Regions from separate parts of the Homo sapiens genome. Here regions 1, 2, 4 and 5 are each linked to region 3. The links come from fine-mapping of genetic effects on gene expression. A gene starts in region 3. Each other region holds a variant in brackets. All regions are shown on one strand. Distances are between the middles of the regions.

What was found. PIP is the estimated chance that this variant, and not a neighbour inherited with it, causes the effect. A credible set is the group of variants that fine-mapping cannot tell apart.
Region 1: its variant is the best candidate, but not a certain one, in a credible set for the expression of MINPP1 in whole blood (TOPMed, PIP 0.84).
Region 2: its variant is the best candidate, but not a certain one, in a credible set for the expression of MINPP1 in blood mononuclear cells (TOPMed, PIP 0.71).
Region 4: its variant is the best candidate, but not a certain one, in a credible set for the expression of MINPP1 in esophagus mucosa (GTEx, PIP 0.55).
Region 5: its variant is the best candidate, but not a certain one, in a credible set for the expression of MINPP1 in skeletal muscle (FUSION, PIP 0.90).

What each region holds. Positions count from the first base shown.
Region 1 is chr10:87,407,466-87,412,572 of GRCh38, reverse strand. It overlaps FAM245A (family with sequence similarity 245 member A), which reads left to right and starts at 4,873. Exons shown (of 3, transcript NR_046091.1): 1 at 4,873-5,070. The variant A/G (reference allele first, on the strand shown) is at 2,479.
Region 2 is chr10:87,390,572-87,395,678 of GRCh38, reverse strand. No RefSeq gene overlaps it. Among named protein-coding and RNA genes, the nearest start is that of FAM245A, 15 kb to the left of the region's middle. RefSeq lists an enhancer at 4,207-5,107. The variant G/A (reference allele first, on the strand shown) is at 2,615.
Region 3 is chr10:87,502,133-87,507,239 of GRCh38, reverse strand. It overlaps MINPP1 (multiple inositol-polyphosphate phosphatase 1), which reads right to left and starts at 2,347. Exons shown (of 5, transcript NM_004897.5): 1 at 1,688-2,347. The coding sequence starts at 2,324. MIR4678 (microRNA 4678) reads right to left here and starts at 3,359; the gene lies at 3,286-3,359. LOC112268064 (a long non-coding RNA gene) reads left to right here and starts at 2,406. Exons shown (of 2, transcript XR_002957094.2): 1 at 2,406-2,905. RefSeq lists enhancers at 2,068-2,127, 2,288-2,377.
Region 4 is chr10:87,628,660-87,633,766 of GRCh38, reverse strand. No RefSeq gene overlaps it. Among named protein-coding and RNA genes, the nearest start is that of PAPSS2, 29 kb to the left of the region's middle. The variant C/T (reference allele first, on the strand shown) is at 2,584.
Region 5 is chr10:86,738,322-86,743,428 of GRCh38, reverse strand. No RefSeq gene overlaps it. Among named protein-coding and RNA genes, the nearest start is that of BMPR1A, 16 kb to the left of the region's middle. The variant TG/G (reference allele first, on the strand shown) is at 2,232.

The DNA.
Region 1 (5,107 bases), 95 kb after region 3:
AGCTGCATATAAACATAAATGAAAAAATATTTTTCCACTCGTTGTTGAAACAGTGGGAGTCCTGAATGATTTGATAGCTGTACAATTAATCAAATAATAGACTACTGGATTAAATCTGAGTGAACTAAAAATATCTGTGCATAGCTGTAAACAAAATTAAATTAATATCCTCAGTACCTCTTATGCCTTTAATGCTATCAGGATCAGTAGATGTGATTTTAAATGACCATTCATATAAATAGGAATACACGTAAAATTTAAAAATACTAAGTGAATTTATACCTAATTGTACTACATTATTAAGTGTGATTTTCTGAGTGTTACTCCTAACCAGTAGCAAATATGTTATATATATGAGATATATGATATGTGTATATATGATATATGATATATATGTTATGATATATATATGATATGTGATATATATGTTACTGGGTAGGAGGTACAGTAGCAAGTTTTCTTTCTTAAAAGAATGGTATACTCTGGGTCTAAGAATGACAAACAGATGATGTGGTGGGCACTTACCAGAGTATTTTATTTATACTGATCTGTACCCCTAGAATATTCTAAAATGAGGATGTATGAGATATATAATACTTTTTATTCTATTTTTCTGAGTTTTCCCTCCCAGTTAGGTTTTCGGAATACAAACATGGAGCAGTTACATGACATAAGGGCAAATAGTATAAGAATTATTACACTTTATTCATTTGTATCTTGTATACTTCCTCTATTGGGTAAATGGATAGATGCAATGAACTGCTAAATAATACTTGTTGAATCCAACCTGAATGAAAACAAAATCTTATGCCTATCGAAAAGCATACAATGTTTGTAGTAGGGAGAAAGGAATCTGATAGATGTCTGATATTTAAATGTAAAAATGTTGGCCGGGCACTGTGGCTCACGCCTGTAATCCCAGCACTATTGGAGTCCGAGGCACAGGCAGATCATCTGAGGTCAGGAGTTCAAAACCAGCCTGGCCAATTTGGTGAAACCCCGTCTCTAATAAAATACAAAAATTGGCCAGGCGTGGTGTTGCCTGCCTGTAGTCCCAGCTACTTGGGAGGCTGGAGCAGGAGAATCACTTGAACCCAGGAAGTGGAGGTTGTAGTGAGCTGAGACTGTGCCACTGTGCTTCAGCCTAGGTGACAGAGCAAGACTCCGTCTCAAAAAAAAAAAAAAGTAAGAACATTATATGCTAACGTGAATGAAATATAAACAATTTTTAATTTTATATTATATACAATGGCAGATCATAGCTGCACCTGTAAGAGAAGATCAAATTAAAATCGGTTATCTGTTTGTTTATTCTCTTATCAGTGCCTGGCTTTCTAGAAAAATTTAGCGATTTTCATGGAATTCTCTGATAAACATTATGAACTCATTGCTTTCTATAATATGTTGGTAATATTGGCCATATATAATAATTTAGAACCTCTTATTCTCCTTTATTTTTCTCAGAGCAGTCATTGCCATTTGACATGTTATATTTTATTTTTGTTAGTTTCCTATTTTACCATACAGCTAATTAAAATGAACTTTTCGTTAATTCAATTACTGTTCTTTTCACTGTTATAGCCCAAGTATCTAAAACAGTGTCTAGCACTAAGTAGTCACCAGGTAAGTCTTTGCTGAGTGAATAAATCTTAGGAGGAAAGGAGAGAGAAAATCTAGATCCTTTATAGTATCCATGGTTTTCTACAAACAGCTAGAATGTAATATTTTATTATTTTGCACCATGTAAGTTAGAATCATTGTGGAACATCACATTTATGCAATTCTTATTAGACTATATCTAGATCTCTTTTAAAATAAGCAAGCAAGCAAACAAACAAACAGCAATGAAGATACGCTGAAGAAGTTTTGGGAGGAGGACCTACATCTTTACAGTTTCACCCCCAACTTACCCATACCCTCCTTCAATGAATTCCTAGGGCTTCTTAGAAAATAGTGGATGCAATTCAGGAAGTGTTTGTTTTAAAACACCAAGAATGATGACTGTCCAAATTCAGAATGTGTTCATGTATTCCATAGACAATGACTGAATATCTACTAGGTTCTGAAAAATGTACTAGTTGCTGCGGTGGATAAAATAATAATACACTGTAAGACAGTCAGGGGAAGAGGTTGGTTTGGTTTAGGATGCATGATAAGATATCTCATGAAGTATCTATATACTCAATTTTAGAAAATGGATCCCATTCTTAAAAACTGGATTCATTGATGGCATTATCAAATTGTTTCAATGTTAAATTTCACTATCTATAGTGTTGGAATATTAGTCCAGTAACAATATGAAACCAAAGATACATCACTATCCAGTAAGGCAGTTTATATTATTACCACATAGTACAATGTGTTAACAGAGATCAAAGATAAATGAACACTTCCAACATAAAATGTATAATAATTTACTTCAGGTAACATATTTTTAAATTATGGGTATAATTATGGGCATAATCATAATTACTACTT[A/G]GAAATGTATTATGTGTATCATTTAGCGTTTTATATATAACATTTTGAATTTTTAAAATATTTATGGGTCCTTGTTGTTAAGATGAAGTGGTGTTCCAGAAATAGTTGATTGTAGATTTGTTGCACGTAAAACAGAGAAATCCAGCATTTATAGGTAACACCACAGTTAAGAGGAAAGAAAACTAAGAAAATTACAGTAGAATGCTTTTGTGAGGAAAAAATGAAATGTCAAAGATAAAATTTTTATGGTTCTTTAATCACAATCATCAAATTGTAACAAATGGAACTTTAAAATTGAATTTGTCTCTTTGTGTGAATTACACCTGAGATTATACCTGCACACCAAGTGAAGAATCATATTTCATAATGCATTTCATTTGGCTTTTAACACAGTTATTCTGTTGAAGACATTTCTGTAAAGCTTTCCAGATACAGGAAAAGCAATTTAATAAACACTATGATCAAATAACTACTCAATTGTTCTTCATCTTTTTTAACTTTTAACACCTTGCAGATCATTCCTAGAATAAAGTGTGTTATCCCCTTTTCACAATGATTCATTAACCTGTATTAATTGTTCTTTACAAAGTTGTTTTTATATATCTTACTAACTACCAATGTGAGGAAAAGGTCTATGTTGCTTTCATTCAGTAGAAAACACATGCACTTTAATAATATTGTTTCTTAAAAAACACCTATTGGTTTGTTTTCTTTCAGTTTCTCATTTATCATCATTTGTTCATCTTCACTGAAAGCTGAACATATGCAGCCTAACAACAACTTGAATTAATTGAATATGTTTCGTATCTATTCTCCAAATTAAATTTTCAGTTTTGCTCACCTTTTCATGATTATATTAAGAAAATGTAGCCATAATTGCTTGTATAGGAAAAATTACTGAGAAAGACATTCAGATTAAATGTAGGAAATGCTCTAAGGATCTTTGAAAGGAAAGAAATGTCAGGTTCTATATTGTATTCAAGGAAGATAGGAGATGAAAGTGTCAGATATGCAAGGCAGATAAGAAAATCATTTTTAAAAATAAGTCATAGACATTCTTTTTCTGATAGTTATTGAAAAATCCTGTTCATCAAAAGATATCTTAAATCAATAAAGATTTCCTCAACCACCAGATAAAATTGTTCTCTGTGTGTGTATGTCTTATTGGAACTGTAATTATATTTACAATACTATAATTAGTCGTATTATTAACTCTCGTTACTCACTAGAACATTATTGGTAATAAGCAGTGACATATCTTAAAGATTTTTCTTGTGTCCCAGCGTCTGCCTAGTGATTAATATGTTAAGCTCCATAAATGTTTATTCAACGAGTAAATTAGTGACTAGGTACTAAGTTCTTATTCTTGTGTACAGTCACCTATAAAATCTTTCCACTCTTCTCTGGGCAATTGGGGAAGCTATGTATAGAAAATGGAAGAGTCTCTGTCAGCCTGGGTTACTAAGGGTGGACCTGAACTTTCTCTGAGTGAAAAAAAAATCTATTTTACTGAGCCACAGAGATTTGGATATTCATATTTTATAGCAGTATTAACTAATACAAGGTATTTTTAACCTTTAAAAGAAAAGAAGAAAAAGTAGAAGTGATACTAATTTCCCAGATGCCATCCAACTCCTCTTTCACCAATAGACAGCATTGAAAGGCGGGAATCAGTGCCTCCTCCTAGTGATAGTGCCTCAATTGAGCAGGGCTTATTCCGAGCTCAGTATGCAACATCCCGACAGGGCAAATCTAGGTATTGCTCTCAAGTCACTATCCAACATCCCGATGGGTTGAATGGCATGCCAAACACAGCAATAAGCAATATAAAAAAGCCAGGCCGCCCCGGGGTGGGGCCACGTGGCTTCAGACCAGAGAGCGGAGCTACCTTGGCCCAAGCGCTGCAGCTGCCTGAACCCCCGGGCTTCGCAGCCTTGCTTGTTTTCTCTGAACCGCAATAGGATGGTGTTCGCAGCGATTCAAAGGGTGGCACTGGGTTGGACGTTTTGGTTACGAGCCAGCCTATTCCCACATTGTACGTGAATGTTTAATGTGCTCTCAAAACATGGAAAATAAGTTTAGTGCACATAGCTAAATCACAAAACATCCAATTTCTCTGTTTCCTCAGGAAGTCATTACTGCGCCACCACATCACGTGACCTTAACATGAGCAATGTATTTCTCTGCCTTGACATTTAAATAAACTATATAAATTAAGATAAGTAGATTAGGAAATCGTTCAAATTATACCATAATCTGTACAAATATTGTGTCCCCTGCCAGGCAAGGGACAGGGTGCGGGCGACGGCCGCGTGGCCAAGGCCCCGCAGGAAAGCGCCCAGGTCTCCCTCACTCTCCAGGTGCCCTTTGCACCCAACAGTGCGTGTGAGGAACGAACTGCTGTTTGAGCCTCCCCTGAGATTGTGCGTAGCCTCCGTGTAAATGTAATAGCCTCCATGGCTTAATTGGCTATCAAGCGAATTTTCACAGATGAAAGCAATGTTAGGTTAGGGGACGACGGTGCAGCCACCCAGCCTTTACCAGCAGCGTGCTGCAGACGAAGGCAGTCAAGGTGTGGAGGTGATCATGCAGGTACATGTTTTTGACTGTTTAATTTGAAAGTTCACAT
Region 2 (5,107 bases), 110 kb after region 3:
CTATTCTGTCTCCTTCCCAGCACACTGACACTGGAAGCACACTATGTCATCACATGAGCAATTCACAGGTGCCATGAAATACCTCACAAATGTACAGTACTTTAACTGTTGACCCCATGTATTAGGTAAGAAAGATATTATTATTTACATTTATCTATTGGAACTTGGGGGCACAGAGTGTTTAAATTACCTGCCCAAGGGCACACAAGTCACTCACCTCTTGTGTTTCAATTATACAATGGCTTAGTGAGTCTTTCTTTCAGACGATTGTTGTGAGGAGTGAATGGAATTAAATCAAGTCTATGTGGAAAGGGCCTGGAGCATGAGTTCTCAATGCAGGGTGACTACTGTCAGCACCAACTAGTTATGATAATGACCATGATGATGACGGGGAGATAATAACACCTTGAAGTAATAATAATGAAGTTAGAATGATACCCCCAAATGTATGAAAATTACGTCTATAAAATGAGTTAGTTTATAAATCGTGAGAAAATGGGCATCCTCAGGTATTGCAGGTAGAAACACACAATGGAATAACTCTTGTCAGCAAGCTAATCCATTTCCAGGAATTATTATTTTTTTTTTTTTGAGACAGTCTTGCTCTGTCACCCAGGTTGGAGTGCAATGGTATGATCTTGGTTCACTGCAACCTCCGCCTCCCAGGTTCAAGTGATTCCCCTGCCTCGGCCCCCCATTAGCTGGGACTACAGGCGCACACCACCATGCCCAGCTAATTTTTGTATTTTTAGTAGAGACGGGGTTTCACCATGTTGACCAGGATGGTCTTGATCTCTTGACCTCGTGTTCTGCCAGCCTCGGCCTCCCAAAGTGCTGGAATTACAGGCATGATCTACCACCCCAAGTCCAGAATTTCCTAACAAGTTCCCAAGAGATGAAGGTGCTACTGGTCAGTGACCCCCTGCTCAAAACCACTGCCCTAGGAGATGGGGGCTCTTCTATGCCCCATTTTTACAGGTAAGGCTGGTCATGGAAGTGGGAGATACAAAATAAAGGGTGGGGTCACGTTCCTTTCTAAAAACCTAAATGCATGTCAGGCAAGTAGGGCTTAGAAAAGAATTTACCCTCCTTCACCTCTGTCACCTCATCCCTCCTTCCAACCTCCATCACTTGTTTGGCAAACTGGACTCTGGGAGCCAGAAGGCACCAGAAAAAGTGGAATGTGAGCCTGCAGGCCATCAAGGTGAAGCCCTGAGGATCCCCCGGGGCCAGTCCCTCCACTTTGATGCGGATAAGCCTCAGCTAGTATCAAGTTGAAAGGAGAAAAAGACAGGTGAGTCACTGTTAAAGAAACAGGTTCACATATGTAGGTCTAGGAGCACTGCAAGTAGTTCTTACAGTGGGAGAGAGCAATTGTGCTCAACTCTGAATCCAGCACAAGGAAGTGGGAATTATAGTCAAGGAGGAGGATGGGGGTTAGCAGATAGGAAATGACTACGAGGGAACATCAAGGGTAAGGGAGGATTCTGGCTAAACTGACCTAACGAGATTCTCGCTGAGCACAGGCCAAGGTTATCTGACATCAGCTGCGGGATGGTGGGGGATGAGGACCCTGATCAGTATATGGTGGACGGGGATTCCTGCCAGCTAAACTGACTTAGCAGGGTAATTTGCTAAAACTGAATTTTACAAAAAGTGCACAGATGCGTTTATCAGAAGGTTCAGAAGCCTGACTAATGTATGGTCAAGCAAACAATTTCTGTCACCACACAGAATGCATGCTCCAGGGACCATACTGGGCCTCAGCATCTTCCTACCCCACCAGCTTCCAGGAGGGCATTTTGCCCTGGGCCTCCTGGGTGTTTCCTTGCCTGATCATTTCTAGGAGACAAGAGACTTGCACTTTATCACCTAGGATAAATTCAGTGTCAGATTTTTAAGCCTAAATCGGATGACAGTGCTTCAGTGACAATCTCAGTTATTTAAAAAGGGAGGTTCATTCATTCACCAGTTCTAAAGGCGCACATAAGACATTCTTTTTTTTTTTTTTTTACAAAAAAATTGAGACCAAGTTAAAAGAAAAAGAATGAGAAAAATCAAGCAACCCGAGTCCCTTATATAATCTCTTCAAAACCCCAAACCAGGGAAATCTTCTCAATATAAACTTGGGAATTTTGTTGATCACTGACTGCAGTCTGGTGGTTTATACTTATTTTCTTGTGTCCTGTTTCCTCCCTTCTCCCACCCCCAGCCCCTCAGCAGGTGCTGCCTTCCTGTCTTGGTCTCATTGTCCTCAAATCAGACCTGCAGGTATGGTCCCAAGTGCTTCTAACCTTCATCCTCATATCCACGGGATCCCCTGAGAACCCAGCTTCTGTTATTGAGAACTGTCCCACCTGCTGACTAAGGAGTCTGATCTTTATTCAGAATCATTGCTAAGACACCAGAAGAAATAACATGTAAGAGTCTAGTATAGAACTCACAGTTCTGATCTGAGGAACTAACAATTGCTTATTTGAATCACTGTATTTTCTATTTATATTCTTTTTTTTTTTTTTTTTTTTTTTGAGATGGAGTCTCGCTATGTCTCTCAGGCTGGAGCGCAGTGGTGCGATCTCGGTTCACTGCAACCTCTGCCTCCCAGGTTTGAGCC[G/A]TTGTCCCTGCCTCAGGCTCCTGAGTAGCTGGGATTACAGGCATCCACCACCATGCCTGGCTAATTTTTGTAATTTTTTTTTTTTTTTGAGACAGAGTCTCACTCTGTTGCCCAGGCTGGAGTGCAATGGTGCCAACTCACTCACTGCAACTTCTGCCTCCCTGGGTTCAAGCAATTCTCCTACCTCAGCCTCCTGAGTAGCTAGGATTACAGGCGCCAGCCACCACGCGTGGCTAATTTTTGTATTTTTAGTAGAGACGGGGTTTTGCCATGTTGGCCAAGCTGGTCTCAAACTCCTGACCTCAGGTGATCCACCCGCCTTGGCCTCCCAAAGTGCTGGGATTACTGGTGTGAGCCACCACGCCCGGCCTATATTCATATTTCTATTCACAATATCTCCTACACGGTGTTTTCCTGTTCTATGGGGAGAAATCAGGCAGATAGCAGAAGACACAGGTCAGATCTCAGTAAGAGTTTCTATGGCCTCCAAACAAGCATTTATTGATTATAGATGTAGGGGTGAATATTACGAATATGGGGAGATGTCCCACAAGGTTAGCTCCTATGCTACCTAATGCACCGGGCAGCTTGTCCATAACTTAGTTTAAATATATCTGTCAGGCTCCATGCCCATTTGCTGTAAAAGCAAGATTACTGAGGTAATCTTAGATTTTAAAATGGAAAACTGGGCCTCACAAAAGCAGTTGGGAAAATTACCTGGAGATTGTTTCTAAGGCAGTGCCCAACTGTACCAAGCAAAGGACAAGTACAAAGTCAGAGCTTCATTAACTTGATGATTGATTCATTCACTTACTTAATGCAAGACTTCAGGGGAAGAAGAGTCGCTGAGTGGAGGAGACTGGAAACAATGCATTATGAAACGCCCATGGTCTCTGGATACCCACCCAGCCAGTCCCCACCCTCCTAGGGTCTAGTCTCGACCATCTCATCATGTGTTTTGAGGGTGCGTTTTCCTACCAGTTGTTTTTTTGTCTGCTGTTTTTTTGTTTTTGAGACAGGGTCTCCTCTCGCCCAGGCTGGAGTGCAGTGGTGCGATCTCGGCTCACTATAGCCTCAACCTTCCGGGCTGGGCGATGCTGGTGCCTCAGCCTCCCGACTAGCTGGGACCCCAGGCGCGGGCCACCACACGCGGCTAATTTTTGTATTTTCAGTAGAGAAGGGGTTTCGCCAGGGTGCCCACGCTGTTCTCGAATTACTGGGCTCAAGTGATCTGCCTGCCTCAGCCTCCCAAAGTGCTGGGATTACAGGCATGAGCCACCAGCAACACGCCCAGATTCTTCTACACCCTTAATTGGGAGATAAGGCTTCTGCTTGCAGGCTGTGCGTTCTTCCAACCGGCCGCACCTTTGCTGTGGACTAAACAGGAACCACTGGATTAGAGTCCTCTGGCTCTCTGCCCTGCAGGAGATTTTAATCAAACATTCTAGGCCTAAGGGAAAAGCAGGGTTAGGCTGAAAATGCACACAGGGCTCCCGTAAATTTCTTTTCATAAACCACCTGCCCAGGGCATTAAATAGGGTACTTAGTTGATCCGAACCCTCCAGGGAGGCCTCCGACCCTTCTCTTCGTAGCCCCCAGCTCCCCTCCCCCGGTTCCACTGAGGCAAGGGGACTGAGCTGCTCCACATGCCAGGAGTCAGCACGCCGGAAGGCCCCGCCCAGCGGCTGGCGCAGCCAATCGCAGAGCGGGCAAGCGGTGGGGGCGGGCCTGCCTGGGCGGCAAGGGGGCAGGGGGGTCTAGGGGCTTTAGAGGTCAGTTAGCTGCTTTCGGGCGGCCTTAGGCGACAGGAGACTCCTGGACCCAGCACCTGCCCACTGTGCCTGTCCACCTGTGGCTACAGCAGCTGAGACCCCAGTGGGCTAAGATTGGACAGGGGCCACCAGGGACCCAGCAAGTCCTTCAGCTCTGTGAGTGAGGGATTTTCGGGAGTGCCAGGCCGCAGTATTCCCAGGGCTGGTGGGGTGGGACAGGGAGGCTCGACCCCGGCAAGTCAGGCAGAGGCGCCCCTTGCTCCCTGCAACATCGCCCACGTCCTGGGGCCACAGTGAGCATGAGCGGAGGGCGGGAGCAAGAGCCAGGGGACCTGGCCTGGGTCCCCAGCCCAAAGCCTGGGAAGCTGCCTACGCCTGTGTGGGCGCGGACACTGGGGACTCTGGCGTCCGGTGGTTCGGCCACCTGATTCAGTTTATGCTCTGCGAGGGGAGTTGGAGAGTTGGCAGGACTGGCCCACCTGCAGGACTGCAGGACCGCGGGAACGGCGGTAGATAGGTGCTCCCCTTCCCAGTTTGTCCTGGGAAGACATTCAAGAACTGTTTCATTACAAGGGGCATTTGGAAAACATACTTCACCTTCTGCTGTGTATTAGCCAAGAACAAGGTGTGACGTGACTTCCCAATTATTGGGGATCCCTTTGTCCCTTCTTGAAATTAGATGTCTTCATTCTTGAGGTTTTGCCTGGATGACCTCAGCACA
Region 3 (5,107 bases):
TCAAAAGACCAGATGTACATAATAGGCAAAACTATTGTCTATAGAGAATAATAAAGTGGCTAGGCAAAGGGTTTGCTATCTGACACTGAAAACGGTCAGGAGTGGGCTTATTCTGAACTGTAGTATTTTCATCCCTGGCTCTGTACTGAGAGTCAAATGCCAGTCTTCGCAATGCCATCTGAGAACAAAAATTCACTTGTTCCAGGAAGTCGCTATAGATATTGTGTTATATTAAAATATGTTCTGCTTTCACCATTCTGTTAATTTAACAGATTTATGAGGAATTTTCACTCATGCTAATGGAAAAAGTATATATTTAAAAAAAAACACAGTTCAACAAGTAATTAGACACAAGTCAGCTAACTGAATTACCCACAATAACATGACACAGAATCAGTGGAGAAATCCCTTACAGATGGTTTCACTGTTCAACAGCTACAGAAGAAATTACAAACCAGCCTACTTCTAATTTTTCACTTGGGCTTTGAAGCTAAACAATAATCCTCACTTCAATTCTGGCCTTAAAAGTGATCAAGAAACTATTAATGCTTGCTCATCTCTGTGGTACAAAAATGTTACATGTTTTTATTCTTATTAGGTATGTTATTGGACAAATGGAGGCAGTATAGCATAATGGCTAAGAAAGCAAGCTCTGAATCAGATTTCCTGGGTCCACAGCTAGCTGTATGAAAATGGGCAAATTATTTAATGTGTTCGTGTATCAATTTCCTCATCTTTGAGATAAGGGGAAAATACTATCAACTCCAGATTGTGGTTGTAAGGATTTTGTAAAATAAATGTGAGGCATACCTGGCATACAATAGGCATGAGGTGTATGCTATCATTATTATTTGTAACTATTACAACATTTTCTAAGAGAAAAAGAACCATTCTAGGAAAACAGAAGACTTGGATACTAGACCTTAGAGAAAGACAATTAAGAAGGCATACTCTTGGGCTCGGGTTCTTCACCTGTGAAATAACGGGGCCTTACTAGATGATTTCTCAAATTTCGAAAAAGTGTAATTAATGGAATAAATGAGTTGTTACTGCTTGTGACCACGGACCACAGCTACAACGATGGGAACGCTACAGTAAAAACATGAACAAAACAGAAGAAAAAAGGAGGACACAAAGGCTTGAGATCAGGTTCCTAAAACAGGGTGTAGGTCTAAAACTGTCATCTGAAAAAGATGATGAGTTTAAAAAAAAAAAAAAAGAAAGAAGGAAAAACTAGTATCGGAAGCAAAGCCCGAGGAAGAAAATTCTAGATTCTGTTTTTTAAAACGTGCGCCCAATTGTGAAACTAGACGCCAGGGAAGGGGGAAGGGATGGGTTGGCGCTCGAAGGGGCAATTCAGTTTGGGAACGGGAGCGCAAAAATTGCGGGAGACCTCGTCTGTCCCCTTTCCTGTTGGATCCCCAACTCTACTAAAGCAGGCAGCGAGTACAAGGTGCTGAATTTACACCTGATGAATTAATAAATGAACATACGTGTAAGGGGAAAAAGAGATAGCCAAGTCTGTAATATCCCTCGACAGGGAGGACGTAGCCCGAGGGATGATGGCTTGGGAAAAGAGGAAAGAGAACTGGGGGGCATCGGAAAAGCCCAGGGTCTGGGGGAGGCGGGAGAGCATCCAGGGCGGGTGGGAGGACCGGGACAGCACACGGGCCGCCCGGGGGGTCACCTGCGACGTCCGGCGGCGGCAAGCCAGGGTGGTAGTGCTGCCACAGCCCCTGCAGGAAGGCGGCGCTGCTATCCATGCAGCGGTGCTTGGAACTGGTGATGAGCCGCAGGCGGCCGTAGTTCTCACGGCTGAAAAGGGCCGGGAAGAGCGAGGCCAGACGCAGCGCCAGCTGTCGCATATCCTGCCGTCCCTTCTCTACTAGCTGCCCGTCCATCCAGTCCGCGTACCACAAAGGCCAGTCGGCCAGCGCTGCACCCAGGTCGCGGCTGCCGGTACTACTAGCCCCGCCATCCCTGGACCCGCGGGCCTGCAGCAACCCGTGCAGCTGCCTCAGCTTGCGGATCTGTTTGACCGTGGGGTAGCGGGTGCCGTGGCGAATGAGGGCGACCAGCTGCACCGGGGTGCAGGTCCCCTCCAGCAGCTCAGGGTCCCGCCACGGAGCCTCGGGGCCCGACAATAGCACGGGGTTGACATCCTCGTAGCGAGTCTTGGTGCCGAAATAGGGGCTGAGCGACGAGGCCACCGGGTCCCTCGGCTCTAGAAGAGAGCAGCGCGCAAGCGACGAGAGCAGCGCCGCAGCCAGGGCCGCGGCAGGCGCTACGGAGGTCCGGAGGAGGCAGCCGGGCGCGCGTAGCATCGTCGGGACGGTCAGTGGAGTGCGCCGAGCCAGCTGCAGATGCCCAGCTTCCGGCTCCGGAGGGCAGGGGGCGGGTCTGGAGGGCGCTTCCGGCCGGCGGCCCTCGGGATGCGCTTCGCTGTTCTCTAGGAGGTACCAACCTCTGGCGGTGGGTCTTGCGTCCCGGCGGAAAGCTCCGAGGAGTCCTGTAGACTTGTGGCTCGGGTGGAGCCGGCGGAAAACCCCGAGAAGCTTGAGACAGCCGTGGCTGAGGTGGAGCCGGCGTCGCTGCCCTGGAGCGTGGGCGAGTTTCCTCTTAGCCGGAGCTTCAGGGATTGACTCAAAGACTCCTCCGCTTTTTTAGTTGTTTTGGGTGTGAATACAGCCCGGACTAAACCTTAGTCGCCTAGACTAAACCTTAGCCTCCCAGGCTGCCAAAACAGCACAGCTTTTACAGATGACTCTTACATCACCATCCCTACTCTGTGATACTGTGTTTTTCAAAGTTTAGTGCCTGAACCATCAGCATGAAATCTGCCTGAGACGGTTGTTGAAAATTCACATCGCTGGGCCTTGCGGCAGGATGCCTCTTGAAGCCCAAGGTTTTTGTTTCGTTTTTTTCCATTTGAGTTTGAAAATAAACAGGATACAGTAAAGCAGAGAACTTGGAAAGGGGCTTACATTCTGCAGGAATTTAAGTCCTGAATCTTTGGTATAATCTTGACCTGGACTACCAGAGCTAACGCCGACATCAGTGAGACAGCACCCTAAAAGTTCTGTGCTTGTTGTTCCCGAAGGCTTAGCGAGTAGAGACATAGCAATCTAGAGAATTTGGGTGCATTGAGTCATGGCCCAACAGATTTACTCTATTATTAAGTATGAGCTAATCTGCTTTGCGAAGCAAACATGCTCTGTATTTACCACCACTCCAGATCCATACGTTCCTCCCATGTACTTACTTACATACTCAAATCAAAAGCTGGGTTTTTTAATAGGTTATTGCTCAGAATCTTTGACCCCAAAAATCATAAGTCTGAACAATACCTTGTTTTTTCCCACTTGAACTCCAGTTTATTTGCCAGCTGGGGAAATAATAAGTATTACAGAAGTCGTACGGTGATCCAGATTTAAGGAAATTGGGACCACGTTTTCATTAAGTTAGCTTTTGCTTCAAAGACACTATTACATTGCTCTTTATAAGCCCATCACCATCTTTACTCCTTTTCTCTTTAAGTGTCTCCTTGGTTTAGAGAGGTGTTCCTCTAAGTTTAGGCGTGCCTCTAAATGTTAACCAAGAAGAAACGGGGCCAGCCTATGAATGCTGAAAATTTGGAGACGTTCTGTGCAGGAAACCATCTTTAGGGCAACAGATGTTCTTTTCGATATGCTATTTTGTAGCATGTCAATGCCTGAATATTCATGGTCAGTGATATTTTTGTAGAACTTTGCTCAAATTAGCATTTAGTAAATATCCGCTCCTTCTTAAAATAGACATTCTAACCCGTATGCTCTATAGGCTGAGTCGCCTGATAATATTTCTAAGTGCATTCAGCGAGCATTTGTTCCAGGTTCATCTCACTGTATTTTGCCTAATACATATGCTTACTAATAACTTCTCACACCCAATCTTTTGAGTCCTAGGGGTTACCAAGTGTTCCCAAAGTCATTATTCACTTCTTCCTTATGAAGCAATCTTTAGAGACTCCACTTACAAAATGTATGGCACAGTACACATTTTTATACATGAAATTTGCCCCTAGTTTGATTTTATTTTCCTTATCTAATTCCTCATCAATTAATTTTATCCTGTTTTATACACTTAGGTATATCAGCTCCTAATTATTTTGATGTTATGCCAAGATAACAATGATAAAGTAAAAGTAAGCAATGCCTCCATGTTTTTGGCTAGGAAAAAGCCAAATATAAAGAAGACGAAGAGTGCTTAAGCTTTGGACCCAGACTCTAATTAGCTCTGCTGCTTATTAATTGAGTGACCCAAGTTCTCTGGGCCTTAGTTTTTTTTTTTTATCTGAAAATTGGTAATATTAGAACCTATATCATGGGATTATCATGACAGAGATGATGTATTTAAAATCCATATGATAGGCCGCTATAAATGATATTTTTATCATTACTAATGTTCAGTGTGATTATTCCTGTGCTAAGATGCCTAGCTTTCTAGCAATTACATGGATTACACTTACTCCCACTGAACATTAAAGTGAATGACTTTCACAGGCAACACATGCATCAAAGATCATTTCATAACTTTTCTAATAATAAAAATCCACTCATTTCACTTAAAATGGATATCTTGTTCTTAGAGCACTAAGCAGCCTTTGAAAAAATTTAAAAAGGTCACAGGCCGTGCTCCTCATTTCATGCCAGACCATGTCTGAATTATCTGGGCACTCTGTAAATTGGATGCCCTTTGACATAGGTGCCCACTTGGTCCAATCATGTAGTACAGAGAAGTTTGCATAGTGCGAAACATGGCTATTCCTTTGCAGAGATCATGGGAACATCACCTCCCCTCATAAGAAATTGTGGGTATGGGAGCAATATATTTGGCAAATCTAACACAATACAAGAGGCAGAAAGGAAAATTAATGGTTCAAGGTCCTTGCAGAGATGGGAGAGGACAGAACCAAAAACACAGGTAGAGAATTTGATTTGGGCCAGAAGGAGATGAGACCTTATCTTCTAAGAGAATGTTAGAAGGATGGGTGAACATGGGGATAAATTTGTAGATCTGGCAGGAGAGAGTTCATAGAATTCAAGTCTGATGGCCTCAGTTTCCACAG
Region 4 (5,107 bases), 130 kb before region 3:
GTCAACCTGTTGTTTAGCCATTTGAGGAACTGCCAGACTGTTTCCCAAAGTGACTGCACCGTTTTAGAATCTCATCAGTGATGTGTTAGGGTTCCAATTTATCCACATCCTCCCCCACACTTGTTACTGTCTGTCTTTTTTATTATAGTCATCCTAGTGAGTGTGAAGTGCTGTCTCATGGTTTTGCATTTCATTTCCCTGATGGCTAATGATATTGAACATTTTTCATGTGTTTATTGGCCAATTTGTGTAACTTCTTTGGATAATTTTCTATCCATTTCTCAGTTCTTATCTGCCTCAGTTTCTCCTCTCAGGGAGAAAGCTATCCCAACACAACACTTCATCACTGGCTTCATTCACCTTGTTATAATTTACAACCTCCAGCAAATTATTAAAATAGATTTATAAAGCACCTGAATCAGCCAGTGATTACTTGTGTTTAATAGAGATTACTTGATTTTAATAGAGAGCTCAAGACTTCAATAAAGACTCAGAGAGCTGAAGTCCATTGCAAATGGACTTGTCTTTGGTTAATAGACTTACTTTATCCAAAGGAACCATTTAACTTTCAAGGCATTATTCCCAGGTCTATAACTCAGGATAAGGTCTAGCCACAGAATATCAGAGGAAGGATTCAGAATAGAAAGATTAATGAAATAGAATGGTCACATAGTATGGCTCAGAGCCTTTCAATACCCAAAAAGGGTAACCAACTATCAGGGGTTGCCTGGGACTGTCCTGGTTTTAAAATCAAAAGTCCTGGAAAATATCTCAGTCCTGAGCAAGCCAGTCAGTCGGTCACTCCAGAGCCATATTCATTCTCCAACTTATGTAGGCAATAGAGTTACAACTGAGTGTTAAAAGAAAAACCTAAGACAAATTAAACAGAGTTTAACTGAGCAAAGAATGATTCACAAATCTGGCAACTCCTGAACCTGAATAGGTTCAGAGAGTCTCCGGAGCAGCCACATGGTTGAAAATTGATGGACAGAAAAAGGAAAGTGACAGACAGAAAATGAAAATGAGGTACAAAACTGGCTGGATCAGTTACAGCTTGGCAATTGCCTTATCTGAATGCGGTTTGAAGAGTTGGCCGCCTTTGATAGGCCAAAACTCAGTGATCAACACAAGAGTAGTTTACAGTCTGTTTACAAATCCAGTGACACGGTTTGGCTGTATTCCCACCCAAATCTCATCTTGAATTGTAGTTCCCATAATCCCCACATGTCATGGGAGGGAGCTGGTGGAAGGTAATTGAATCATGGAGGCATTCATGCTGTTCTCATGATAGTGAATAAGTCTCATGAAATCTGATGGTTTTATAAAGGGCAGCTCCCCTGCACACACTCTCTTGCCTGCCGCCATGTAAGATGTGCTTTTGCTCCTCCTTCACCTTCTGCCATGATTGTGAGGTCTCCCCAGCTGTGCAGGACTGTGAGTCCATTAAACCTCTTTTTCTTTATAAATTACCCAGTCTAATTTTTTTTTTTTTTTTGAGACGGAGTCTCACTCAAGTTGCCCAGGCTGGAGTGCAGTGGCGTGATCTCAGCTCACTGCAAGCTCTGCCTCCTGGGTTCACGCCATTCTCCTGCCTCAGCCTCCTGAGTAGCTGGGACTACAGGTGCCTGCCACCACACCTGGCTATTTTTGTTTTGTATTTTTAGTAGAGACGGGGTTTCACCATGTTAGCCAGGATGGTCTCGATCTCCTGACCTTGAGATCCACCCACCTCCACCTCCCAAAGTGCTGGGATTACATCAGTCATTTCTTCATAGCAGTATGAAAATGGACTAATACATCCAGTTAGGTTACAGTTTATTCAGTATGAAGATACCATAAGTTAGGTCAAACTTAAAATATGTAAGTAGGCGCTTTGGATTAAATTTAATTTAGCAATTCCCCAGTTTTGAGAGATTGACCAAAACTGTAGGCATTGATGTTACTCTACTACCATGCTAAATATCCTTATGCTGTCTTAAATCCCATTGAGAAATAGCAAAACAGTGGGTTTTGCAAGGTGGGAATAAAGGCATCTTGTTTTTGTTTTTTAATACACATGGAGTTTTGCCATTTGCCCAGGCTGGTCTTGAACTCCTGAGCTCAAGAGATCCACCCACCTTGGCCTCCCAAAGTGCTAAGATGACAGGTGTGAGCCACCATGCCCAGCCTATGTTTGTAAGGGTTACAGTAGAGGGGACCTTCTTGTGCTGCAATCTCCTGTTTACAGGAGAAAAACGAAACTTGGCCTGTTTTAGGACCTACCTGCTTCATTAAAATTTCAATTTGATTATGTCGCATTTAGCATGAGTGACTCCATTTTGGTTTGGTTTGGTCTGGTCTGTTGTGGCCTACTACCTGAGCTCAATCCAAAATAATGGTCTCCCATCATTTTGTTTAAAAATTCTCCCCTTTTGGTTAGGTTCTCATTTAGGTGAGAGTATAACCAAAACTTACAGCCTTAGCACCACTCTCAGTTATCATCATTTTGGGTTTCCACTCTCAGCATATCATTCTTAGGTTACGTTACCCCATGTTCATATTTCTTTTAGTTTTTATCATTCCAGTTGAAGAAAGACCATTTGA[C/T]ATTTTATGGATGGCTGCTTGCAAATATTTAAAACTTTTGAGGGAATACAACAAACCAGGGAGACTCTTATTACAACTATCAGGAGGGTAATACCAAAAGTTTGAAGTATGCTCCTTAGCCGGGGTTCCCATGAACCAAACCAACTAAAATCAAATAGACCAAAGAATGAGCTAGATAAAAAGTCTATTCATTCCAACCAAGCAGCCTGTTCATTAATTCCCTACAGTCAAGTCTCTATAACGTCCAGTGTATTTCCCCATGGGCAACTAGATGTATCAGCAACTGCACAGATACTTCTGTTTAGCCAGTAGATGATCTAGAGCAATTCTATTAATTAGCACAACATACACAAGAGAGTTTAAAGTCTGTTGTGTAACCATAGCCTTTGCAGTAGAATCTGCTGTACAGATCTACAGACTATTATGAGGTATACATTTCTTTCTTTTTTTTTTTTTTTGAGACGAAGTCTTGCTCTGTCGCCCAGGCTGGAGTGCAGTGGCGCAATCTCAGACCACTGCAACCTCTGCCTCCCAGGTTCAAGCGATTCTCCTGCCTCAGCCTTCTATAGGCACACGCCACCACGCCCAGCTAATTTTTTTTGTCTTTTTAGTAGAGACGGGGTTTCATCATGTTGCCCAGGCTGGTCTCAAACTCCTGACCTCAAGTGATCTGCCAGCCTCGGCCTCCCAAAGTGCTGGCATTACAAGCGTGAGCCACCGCGCCCAGCCGAGGGATACATTTCTAATCATTGCCTCATTTACTTTAAACCATGGAAAAACAGACCTAATAAATGATGCCCATCCAAAAGAATGAAGGCCTCTGGCAATGTTCTCTTTAACCTATGATGTAGGTTAAGAGGTGTGGACAAATGTTCTGGTTTTGATAGATAATGAAGCAACAAAGTTACCATTAAAATTTCTCACTTACATTGGCCCTTCCTCTTCCGTCTGTCAAGGCAGAAGATTGTTTATTGATAAGGCTGGCTGTGACATCCTCCAAAAATAAATGTATACCTCATGAGTGCACACAAGAGGCCCCTTTTTCAGTTCTATTGTTCACAGAGACATAGGCAAGGAAAAAATTTAGAGATGAGAATCTCATGATAGCAGAGAAGCCTTAAAACATGCTCTTGGGAAAAAGCTGTGTATGTCAAAGATGCTGTCTGTTTCTGGGGAGAAACTTCCCTGGTTAGCTTTATCTTAGGTACCCAATGGCTATATAGTTCCAAGAGTCTGGAGGGGAGCTTCTGAGTTGTGAACTCAAGGTTCAAGATCCTCAAGTTTTGCCGCAGTGCGGGTGGCAAAGGTAGTTTTTCTTTGATGTTGTTCTTAGAAGACCCAGTCTCCAGGTTCTATTATAGATTGTGAAGGGTTTGATCGTCCTTAGTCAGTGGACCATGAAAAACCTCTTCACCTGGTGAAAATACACTTTGGCACAATGCATTAAAAGTCTTGCCGCATTTAGTCATATCAGAGTTTAGTGATAAAAGATAATGAGCTTCTATTATTAAGTGCATAAGCCTTCCAGTGATTATTGCATAAGGGGTCAACTTATGTTTTCCGCTTTAAATGGATCTGACTGTCATCATTCTGCAATACCTCTGACCAAGGCAATTCAATATTCAGTTAGTTTTATTTATTGCTATTGTATCTGTAATACCATATTTAACTATTACAACTTGTTCAGTGAAACAAGTACCTCTATCACTAGAGATTTCTCCAGAAATGTCCCATTAGAGAAAAACAATTTCTAATAACCTTTTAGCTGCTGTAATAACATCAATCTTCTTGCATGGGAAACCTTCTATACAACCAGAAAACATGCATTGAAAATAACAATTGCATGAAATCCCTCTATAAATGTTTAAACAGGCCATCAGGTATCAGAAATGTACCTGAAGTTTTGATCATCTTTGCAGGATTTTGGGTTTGACAAAGCAAACATTGGTCATAAATTATTTCAGCAGTTTAGAATAGTCAGTGTGTGTGTGTGTGTGTGTGTGTGTGTGTTTAATTTATATTTTTATTTCTTCCATTATAAGTCATGGAATGCAAAGCTTTTAATATTGGAAGCTTTAAGGACCAAGAAGGTCTAGTTTGCCATCCAGGCTCTCCATAAGTCCATGCTTAACATTGAACTTATACCCTCTTGAATATCAATTTCGTTTCTTCAATTTAGGAGCATAGCACTGTTTATTAGATGAGTTATCATTTGACTTGGAGCATGAAATTCATTCAAATTGCATATTTAAACAATTTCAATACTGACTGATTTAGCTTGAAAATCTGGCAAAGTATTTTCTTGGTATCCAATTAATTTTTATCCTGCTTAGGTTAGCAATTTTATAAACCAGTCGGTTTCTTCATTAGAATTCTGGGAATTCTTACCAAGTCCAAATGTTATTATCCTAAAGCTATCAGAAGCCTTATTCAAGAGTGCTTGTCAGGGTTCTTTTTATCGTTTTCATGAAACTCCTTGAAGACACAATGCTCTAGGATTTTGCTTGCTTGTGAAGTTTCCAGA
Region 5 (5,107 bases), 760 kb after region 3:
AAAAAAAAAAAAAAAAAAGAAAAAGGTTATAGAGCATCTCGTCCAGGGCATCTTTTTTTTTTTTAATAATAATAACTTAAAACAGAGCATGATTTTTAAAGCTAAAATATTAGATTGTAAGAGAAATTTTACAATTGCAGAAAGCTCCTAGAGGACATGTGTTTACTGTCCTTTGCTTGTAGGTCTGCTTTATATAAAGTTGAAGAAACGTTTATTGCCTTATGATAGTGAAATTATGCATAACTTAATTATCTCCTCAACCAGACTATGAGCTCTGTGAGGCAAGGATTGTGCCTCATTTGCCTCTGAATTCACAATAAAGTACTTAGTTACTTAGCATGAGGCCTTGCTCAAAGTAAAGGCTCAATGAATGTGGAACTAAACTCAACTCTGTCTTCCTCCCAGTGCTTCTGATGAATATAGTATTTCCACAAAGGAAAGGACTTCACATCAAGTGCCTAGTGGAGAGAGGTATTTTGGGGAGATGTATTTTACCTATCTAAACCTTGGCTTCCTTACCTGGTAGAGTTGTGAAGTTCAATGAGAAAAGATACATAAAGTGCCAAGCACTGTGCATAAGCATAGAAGGTGCATGCACACACACACGCAAACAATAAGAAAACTTGTTTCCTTTCCTCTAAAGTCACATTCTGGTTATTAACCTACAAACTATGACATTATCCTGGTCATTTAAATCATTCCAAGCAACTAAAAAAGGACCTGGTATCTATGGCTCAGGTCTGAGCCACTGCCTGGGGCTTCTGCAACACCCCATCTTTCCTCCTAAACTCGCAACCTCATATTACCATACCATTCAACAGCTTGCTTACTCTTTGGGTTACCTTCCCATTAAACCTGGGCTTATAGGGATAATTCAACTAGAAAGTGGAGAGAGGTAACCGCTTCTTAGGAGGAGGGAGCTGCAGAGCCATTTCCAGCCTTGCCTCACTCAGTAATCTGATTTCCCCTCCCAATTCCAGGGCATGTCTTGGCCCTGGTTCCAGGAACAGTCCTGGACAAATGTTGCCAATTCCTAACATAGAGCATGAACCAGGGAATCAGGATCCCAAAATGGCTGTGTCTTTTATTCTATTGGCCTGAGTCTAGAGTAGCTTTACCAAGAAACTAATGCAGCTTAAACTTCAAGGCTCCTCCCTCACTTCCAAAGACCCCCATGGGTGCTAAGAGTTGCTGGAATATTCTAGGTTGAGAGGGAAAGCTAGTTTGCAATCAGGGAACTTTTTTTTTTTTTTTTGAGATGACGTTTCACTCTTGTTGCCCATGCTGAACTGCAATGGTGCAATCTCACCTTACTGCAACCTCTGCCTCCTGGGTCCAAGCGATTCTCCTGCCTCAGCCTCCCAAGTAGCTGGGATTACAGGCATGCACCACCACACCTGGCTAATTTTTGTATTCTTAGTAGAGATGGGGTTTCACCATGTTGGCCAGGATGGTCTCGAACTCCTGACCTCAGGTGATCCACCCACCTCAGCCTCCCAAAGTGCTGGGATTACAGGTGTGAGCCACCACGCCCAGCCCAGGGAACACTGTTATGTAAGCTTTTCTGATAACTTGCCTAAGTAGGCTTTAGAAGAAAGTGACCTAGAGTTCTGGGACTCCACTCATTTGTTGTGATTTTGTCCTCATTCTAAATGAATACTCCATTTGGTGTTTGCAGCTACTGTAACCCCTTTTTTTCTTTTCTGTCTTTCTTTTTTCTCTTTTTTTTTTGAGACAGAGTCTCACTCTGTCGCTTAGGCTGGAGTGTAGTGGTGCAACCTCAGCTCACTGCAACCTCCGCCTCCCAGGTTCGGGCAATTCTCCTGCCTCAGCCTCCCGAGTAGCTGCAATTACAGGCGCGTGCCACCACGCCTGGCTAATTTTTGTATTTTTAGTAGAGACGGGGTTTCACCATGTTGGTCAGGCTGGTCTCGAACTCCTGACTTCATGATCCACCCACCTTGGCCTCCCAAAGTGCTGGGATTACAGGCGTGAGCCGCCGCGTCCTGCCAGCTTTTTTTTTTTTTTTTTTTTTAACAAGGTCTCACTCTGTCACCCAGGCTAGAGTGCAGTGGTGTGATCACAGCTCACTGCAGCTTCCATCTCCTGGGCTCAAGCGATCCTCCCACCCTGGCCTGCAGAATAGCTGGGACCACAGTCGCATGCTGCCACGCCCAGCTAATTTTATATTCTTTTTTTCTTTTCTTTTCCTTTTTTTTTTTTTTTTTTTT[TG/G]AGGTGGAGTCTCATTCTGTCACCCAGGTTGGACTGTAGTAGCACGATCTTGGCTCACTGCAACCTCCACCTCCCAGGTTCAAGCAGTTCTCCTATCTCAGCCTCCTGAGTAGCTGAGATTACAGGCACACACCACTACACTTAGCTAATTTTTGTATTTTTCATAGAGACAGGGTTTCACCATATTGGTCAGGCTGGTCTTGGGCTCCTGACCTCAGGTGATCCACCCACCTCAGCCTCCCAAATATATTCTTTTTCTTAAAGATGGCCCCACAAAACACTGGATTCCAGGCTGAGTCAGGCCCTTCTCCAATCTGTATCTACTTTTCTACAATGCTTCCCTCTCCTGCAGCTCACCAGAAAGTCACAAGTAGGATGAGAGGGGCTCCGCAGGGATGTGGAGGTGACCACATGCAAGATAGAATTGCCATCACCACTGGCATTCCTTCTACCCCAGGCACACATTGGATGCCTTGCAGTGATCCTTCTTCCACAAATGCTGGGATTCTCCTGCATTCCCAGTGCTTCTATTTGAAATAGTTTTCAGGATACCCTGAATTCAGGATAATACCCATCCTGAATTCAGCATTGGACATTGTATTAGTTGAGATTCTTTTGGTTGCAAGTGACAGCAACCGAATTTAAACAAGCAGAAGGAAAAAGGCGAGAACTATACTCTGAACCAGAGTTAGATAAAGGGAATAACTGATTTGCAAATGGAAAGGTATTCTGTAAGAATTTACTTAATAAAATATTTGGGGTTTTGAATAGAATTTGTTTGTGAAAAACAGCACTTTGTTCTCAGCTAAGCAATAACAATTATGGCATTCTTTGGTTATTTCAATTATGTTTTTTTTTTTTTTTTGAGATGGAGTTTTGCTCTTGTTGCCCAGGCTGGAGTGCAATGGTGCAATCTCAGCTCACCACAACCTCCGCCTCCCAGGTTCAAGTGATTCTCCTGCCTCAGCCTCCCAAGTAGCTGGGATTACAGGCATGCGCCACCACGCCCGGCTAATTTTGTATTTTAGTAGAGATGGGGTTTCACTATGTTGGCCAGGCTAATCTCGAACTCCCGACCTCAGGTGATCCACCCTCCTCGGCCTCCCAAAGGGCTGGGGTTACAGGCATGAGCCACCGAGCCCGACCCAAATGGTTATTTCTATGTAAACAGACAGTTTTTAAATAATGTGAAAATACAGGAGTGTTTTGGAAATACCGAGGTGGGAACACCGGCCCGCTGTGGCCAGGACGATGGCACATCATGAGAAGGTAGCACTTGCGGTTGAGAAGTGAGGCTGGAGAGACACAGCGGCCTGGCATATGGGACTTGTAAATGCAGGTTAGTTTGGGCTCTGTTGAGGGATAATGAGAAGACATTTATAAGTTGTGCAGGTCCATTAGATGGTCAGATTTATTTTTGGAGAGATCCTGAATGGGAACGGATTCGGGGGTGGATACGGAGCAAAATGGAGACAAGGAGATCAGTTAGGAAGCTGCTGAGATGATGCAGAGGAGAGATGTTTTTTAAAGGCAGGAGTCCTGAGGATGAGAGGAGAAAACAAATTCAAGACAGGTTCAGGAAGTACATGGGCAGCCTGTGGTGGTTATTTGTTGTCAGAGCAATATGGGAGAAGACACTAGGATGATCCCAGATATTTAGTTTCAATGACCGGGTGGTGCCTACAATTCACTGAAAGAAAGAATACAAGAGGAGAAGCAGGTTGGCTAGGAGGATGGAGAACTAAGTCAGTGGCAGCCCTGGAATTCCTCTATGGAAGAGATTCAGTCAGAAGGCATGTGGTATTTGTCTTGAAATTATAGTTACAATTATAAGCATTCTGCATTTATTTAGCATGCATGTTCAGAAATGATAGCATGGATGGCGGATTATTTGAAGGCCTTCTCAATAGAAGTTTAATCACCTTGTTTAAGCAGACAAGGATATATGAATAACATAAATGTTTTGCATTCAAAGGGAATTTACCAGCCAAATAATAAACTGAAGACCTCGTCTCGCATTATATTTTCTAAAGGTTTGCTTAGCTACTTGGTGGTCAAATATTTCAGTTTATTTCTGTTCTACTCCAAATGACTTCATTTCTAGAAAAGTTGCTATATTTCCTTTTATATCATTTGTTTTCAAATAAGTTTAGGGTAAAATCCTCTCATAGCATTTTTTTTTTCTTTTTAATAATGAAGACCCTTCTGAGGGTACTATGTTTAACAAAATCAAACTCATTCTTTTTCGAGGTAATCTGTTTCTAGGAATTACTGAAAGGTAAAAGGAAGTTTTCCATAACATGTATGATTTTTAGCACCTGAATCAGACCTTGAAAGAGCTGTGCAATTACAAATAGAAAACACATCTTATTGTTTTAATACTTCTTGAAGCTATAGCATGGATGACAGAATGTCACATCCTGAATTTGGCATTGGATGTTGTATTAGTTGAGATTCTTTTGGTTGCAAGTGACAGAAACCCAATTTAAACGAGGTCAAGAATAAAGGGAAGGCCAGGTGCGGTGGCTCATGCCTGTAATCCCAGCACTTTGGGAAGCTGAGGTGGGTGGATCACTTGAGGTCAGGAGTTCGAGATTAGCCTGGCCAACATGGTGAAACCCCATCTCTACTAAAAATACAAAAATAAGCCAGGTGTGGTGGTGCATGGCTGTAATCCCAGCTACTTGGGAGGCTGAGGCAGGAGTATTGCTTGAACCCAGGAGGTGGAGGTTGCATTGAGCCAAGATGGCGCCACTGTACTCCAGCCTGGGTGACAGAGTGAGACTCTGTCTCAAAAAAAAAAAAAAAAAAAAAGAATAAAGGGGAAATTGAGCAAAAGGAAAAGATAAGTGTGGAGCCTTGGGAATGACAAGAT